2 separate regions of the Homo sapiens genome follow, and region 2 is linked to region 1. Evidence: fine-mapped expression QTL. A gene starts in region 1. The other region holds a variant in brackets. All regions are shown on one strand. Distances are from middle to middle.

Region 1 (2,500 bases):
ACTGCATAATTTCACAATTTCACAGACGGAAGGAAACTCAAAGATCATCTAACCCAACCTCATCACAGTCATGATGAGAAACTGAGGTCCAGACTGAGGAGGGGACTTCTCACAGGTCCCTAAAGCACAGCAGTGACAGAGCTGGGACCACACACTGGATTGACTGGATTCTGGATTGATCCAGAATTCTCTGATGCCTCCAATTATTACTACTTCATATTAATCTCTATATCCTCCTTAGCACCAGAAAGGTGCTGGACGCTTGTAAGTCATGTGCTGATTGACACTGAAGGGCTGGGATCGCAGAGAGAGATGCCAGTGGGGGTGATTTTAGGATAAAGGCAGACGTGGAACGAGGGTCATACGGCTACAGGATAAAGATACTGAGGGTTGTGTACAAGGTGAGTGCGTGGAAAACTATTGGAGTAGGGCTTAGGAGTCGCCAGCAGAGTTTTGAGGGGAGTCACCGAGTTTGTGGGGAACACAAGGTAGAATCGGGGGGGTTACTGGGCCAGGAGGGTTACCCAGGTTTGGGGGTCACTAAGGAGGAGTGTGGGGATCTCAGGGTCATGTGAGTCACCGGATTAAAACTGAGGGAGTCACTGGTTGGTGGGTCTCTGAGAAGTGCTGGGGAAATTCCTGGGTTAGCAGCCAATGAATAATAACCAACGGTTACCTGGTGAGGTCTTGGGGTCAGTGGGTGGGGTGTGGGGTCACAAGGGTGGAGGCGGGCGCCGTCACGGGGTGAGGTTTGGGAGTCACGGGGGAGGAGCCGCAAGGCGGAAAAGAGGGGCAGGGACCCTGGGTGGGGGAGGGGGCCCGGCCGCGGTCCAGCGGCCAGGCCGCCCTGCTAGGGCCGGAGGGAGGTGGGCACGCCGGGCTCGGGACCTTCCCGGGGTCCTGCGCCCGCCCGGCCTCCCGCCCTGGGCATGGTTGGCCCACTCCTCCCGCAGCCACCAACCTGACAGCCCCCGAGGGCGACTCCGCCGACAGACCGCCATGCACCGGGCCCCGCCACCAGCGCCGGCCCCACAACCCGCCTGCGCCATAGCCCGCCCGCCCGCGCGCAGCTTGCCTCGCGCGATATCCAGGTTCCAGGGCCGCCGCACTTTCCTTTCCTCTTGGCGCGCCTCTACCGGGCCCCGGAACCCGTATAGAAAATACCGGGCACGGTCCACCCCGCCCCCCGCTTCGCCGCGGCAGCCATCCAACTTATCCTGGTTCCGGGGCTCCTGGAGCCCAGGCGGCCGGGATCTGAACCGAGCTCTTCGGAGCCCCGCCCCCACCAAGGCCGGGGTGACGCATGGCCAGCGAGGCTGAGCGCCCAGGGAAGGCGTGCTGACGTCACGACGCCCGGGTCAGGGCCTGGGCGCGGCTCGGAGCCGGGTCGTCGCTATAGCAATCGGGAACCGCTACCTGTCCATTCCAAGGATTCGGTCCAGCAGAAGCGTGAGGAGGTGGCGGAGGCCCCGAGGGCTTTGCGTCATCACTTCTGCGGCCTGCGGGCGAGAAGGTGCGCTTCGGGAGTAGCGCGGGAGGACAGGAGGCGCAGGTTGTGAGGGACGCAGGCCCTGGGGCTTCGGTCTCTGTCCTCCGAGCTCAGAGCCTCCAGGCTTCTTCCCGGCCGCGCGCTCAGCACTCACTGTCTTACGGTCCCGAAGCGCTTTAAGGTGCGCAGTCCGCAGGCCTTGCCTACTGATCTTCCAGCCACCCCTTGAAGGAAGCAGTTGCAGGTATTAAGAGCTCCTTATTGAAAAGGACGATGTAGAGGGGCGGTGAGGGACTCGCCTCCGCAGGGAGGGCGCCCTGGCGGTCTTCTCAGGTTCTCTCTCATTCCCGCGTCAGCTCCACCGTCAGGCTCGAAACCGACTACTCCCTTTTGTAGGCTTGCTTTGGGTTGAACATAAAAACCAAGCCCCTTTACTATTTCCCTGCTGGGAGGGGCTGCGATTGGGAAATTTTCAGAAACCTGAGGGAAAATTAAAAGGGAGCGAGCTTTCGGTAAAAAATCAAATTAAAAAGGAGGGGCGTTAGAGAAGGAACTGGTAAAGATTGCCTTTTAGGAGAGGAACTGGGTGGCTGGAAGAATGAGGTGAGAAACTTTCCCCTCTCTATCCTTTCAGACTTTAACTGGTTTCTTTTGTATCTTCCCCGCCCCGAAAACAATTTAACTTAATAAGAATAATTTTTAAAGGACGTAAACTAGACACAGTTACAAAGTACGGGGTTTGGGGCTTGTGGTAGCTAAAGGTGTCTTTGGGGATGCGGGCATCCTTTTCCTCTCCTGCCTGAAGAGCTTAACTAGAAAGCCCCCCTTTCGGTCTTAGACATCCCCTCTTCCTGACTTGTTCTGGCTGGGACCAGAGTTCAGTTTAGGTAGGCCAGTGAGTGACATTTGATGGTTAGAATTCCTACGGTTAGAATTAATCCCTTCTGTATCTCCTAGTATGGAAATAAACTGCCTGGCCACTATGCTGCCCTCTTTCCATTCCTTTTTGGT
Region 2 (3,021 bases), 100 kb after region 1:
AATTGAATTGCTAAACAAATTTTTACTTGGATATTATTACTTAAAAGATGAATGCACTCAAGCAGCATTCAATCAATGAACCAACCATGTGCCCAGCACTATTACAGTTGTAACAAAGGATAAGAAAGAATTTGAACAGAAAGGAATTTTGCTCCCAGCCAAGATGGAGCAACAGTGACTGGATTTCCTCTCCTTCCTGAAATGAAACAAAGAAGGATGGAAGAAAGGAGGAAGTGAGGGAGGGAGATAAGGAAAGAATGAGAGAGATAAGAGAGGGAGGGAATGGGAAGAAAGGGGGAAGGAAGGAAAGAAGGTAAGTTGGTTTTCAAGACTGTTTCAGGCAAGAAAGGACATTTACTGAGAGATGGAAAAACAAGGTAAGCCCCACAACTGCCCTACAGCTTACTGCTTTATGAAGGCTTCCAGGCTGTGGTAGAGGGAGAGAAAACCAGGCACGTCTCAGCCAATTCTGAGTTGAAGAGACAGAGCTAAAAGGATACCAAGGTAGCTAGAGTTTTCAGGACAGAATACCAGACAGGAGAGAGCTACACAGAGGCCTGGAGATGTGTAGAGGGTCTCCCACAAGTATCTGGCATTATTGACCCATAGGGTGAGAAAACTACCCAAGGCTAGGGAGAGAACCTTCTAAGAGGACGAGAGAGCAATGTTATGTGTTCACACAGAGGTGGGAAGAGTGTTTCCACCAGCCAGACTGGAAAACTTCATAATTCATGAGGCATGGGTAAATTACTCAAAAGGGTACTGCCTTGGTATTGAGGAATAATTACCCCAACACAAAACACTGCTTTGGTCCCACCTAATAACGCTTTTTAATTTTTTTGTAAACAGGGTCTCACTCTGTCACCCAGGCTGGGGTGTAGTGGCACAAGCTTGGCTCACTGCAGCCTCAACCTCCTGTGCTCAAGCAATCATCCCACCTCAGGCTCCTGAGTAGCTAAGACTATAGGCCCACACCACCTTGCCTGGCTGATTTTTATATTTTTAAATAGAGATGGAGTCTCACTATGTTACCCAGGCTAGTCTTGAAATCCTGGGCTCCAGTGATCCTCCCGCCTCATCCTCCCAAAATGTTCAAAGTGATGGGATTATAGGCATGATCCAACTCGCCTGGCTCCCACCTAATAACTATTTTTTTTTTTTTGAGATGGAGTGCAATGGCACGATCTCGGCTCACTGCAACCTCCACCTCCCGGGTTCATGCCATTCTCCTGCCTCAGCCTCCCGAGTAGCTGGGACTACAGGCGCCCACCACCATGCCCAGCTAATTTTTTTGTATTTTTAGTAGAGATGGGGTTTCACTGTGTTAGACAGGATGGTCTCAATCTCCTGACCTT[G/T]TGATCCACCCTCCTTGGCCTCCCAAAGTGCTGAGATTACAGGTGTGAGCCACCGCACCCAGCTCCCACCTAGTAACTCTTAAAAGAAAGACCAAAAGAATCAAACTGTTGCCAAGTAACCTAATCGAATCCTATAACAATCCTATAACAAAGCTCAAGAATATTATAGAAATACCAAAATATCCTGTACTTAACGGGTAAAATTCACATTAGGCATCTAATGAAAGAATACCAGGCATGCAAAATATAACCTATAATGAGAAGAAAGATCAATCAATTAAAATTGACCCAGAACTGGCTGGGCACGGTGGCTCACGCCTCTAATCCCAGCAGTTTGGGAGGCCGAAGTGGGCAGATCACGAGGTCAGGAGATCGAGACCATCCTGGCTAACATGGTAAAACCCTGTCTCTACTAAAATTACGAAAAATTAGCCGGGCGTGGTGGCACATGCCTGTAGTCCCAGCTACTAGGGAGGCTGAAGCAAGAGAATTGCTTGAACTCAGGAGGTGGAGGTTGCAGTGAGCCGACATCGCGCCACTGTACCCCAGCCTGGGGGACAGAGTGAGACTCTGTCTCAAAAAATAATAATAAATAAAAATAAAATAAAAAATAAAATTGACCCAAAACTGACAAAGATGTTAGAATTAACAGACGAGTATGTTAAAACAGTTATTATGGCTATATTCCATATGTTCAAAAACATGCATAATATTTAAACGATGCAAAATGAACTTTTGAGATGAAAACTACAATTAGTAACATGAAAACTACAATGAGTAAGACGAAAATTACATTGGCTAAGGTTGATAGCAGACTAGATGTAGCAGAGGAAAATTTTAGTTATTAGAAAGACATAACAATAGAAGCTATTCCAAATTAAACATACAGAGAAAAAAGATGCTTAAAAAATAAAAAGAGCATCAGTGAGCTACAGGACAACTTCAAGCAGCCTCATATACATGTAATTGGAGTCCCTGAAAAACAGGGAGTACAGAAAAAATATTTGAAGAAGTAACGCTCAAAAATTTTCTACATTTTATGAAAACTATAAACCCACAAATCCAAGAAGCTCAATGAGCCCCAGCAAAAGAAATCTGAAGAAAATTACACCAATGCACATATAATCAAATCGCTCAATATATATAATAAAGAGAAAATCTTAGAAGCAGCCAGAGAAAAAAAGACATATTACATATAAAGGCACAAATATAAGGATAGCAGCAGATTTCCCACTGGAAACAGGGCAAGTGAGAAAACAGTTCAGCAAGATATTTTAAATGCTGAAAGAAAAAAAAAATCTGTCAATCTGAATCCTATATCAGCAGAAGTATCTTCAAAAATGAAGCTATAATAGAGACCTTTTTAGATGTGCAAAAGTTGAAAAAAATCATCAATGGCAAAACTGTACTATAAAAAATGTTAGGCTGGACGCGGTAGCTCACACCTGCAATCCCAACACCTTGGAAGGCTGAGATGGAAGGATCTTTTGAGCCCAGGAGTTCAACACCAGACTGGGCCACAAGATTAGACCCTGTCACTACAAAAAATTTAAAAATTAGCTGGGTGTGGTGGCACATACCTGTAGTCCCAGCTACTCAGGAGGCTGAGGCAGGAAGATTGCCTGAGCCCAAGAGGTGAAGGCTGCAGTTAGCCGTGATCACATCA

Evidence for each region. PIP is the estimated chance that this variant, and not a neighbour inherited with it, causes the effect.
Region 2: its variant is the best candidate, but not a certain one, in a credible set for the expression of ZNF76 in subcutaneous fat (GTEx, PIP 0.57).

Annotation. Positions count from the first base shown.
Region 1 is chr6:35,258,303-35,260,802 of GRCh38, reverse strand. It overlaps ZNF76 (zinc finger protein 76), which reads right to left and starts at 1,068. Exons shown (of 14, transcript NM_003427.5): 1 at 962-1,068. SCUBE3-AS1 (SCUBE3 antisense RNA 1) reads left to right here and starts at 1,348. Exons shown (of 4, transcript XR_001744102.2): 1 at 1,348-1,513. RefSeq lists silencers at 636-955, 966-1,085.
Region 2 is chr6:35,155,878-35,158,898 of GRCh38, reverse strand. No RefSeq gene overlaps it. Among named protein-coding and RNA genes, the nearest start is that of TCP11, 16 kb to the right of the region's middle. The variant G/T (reference allele first, on the strand shown) is at 1,356.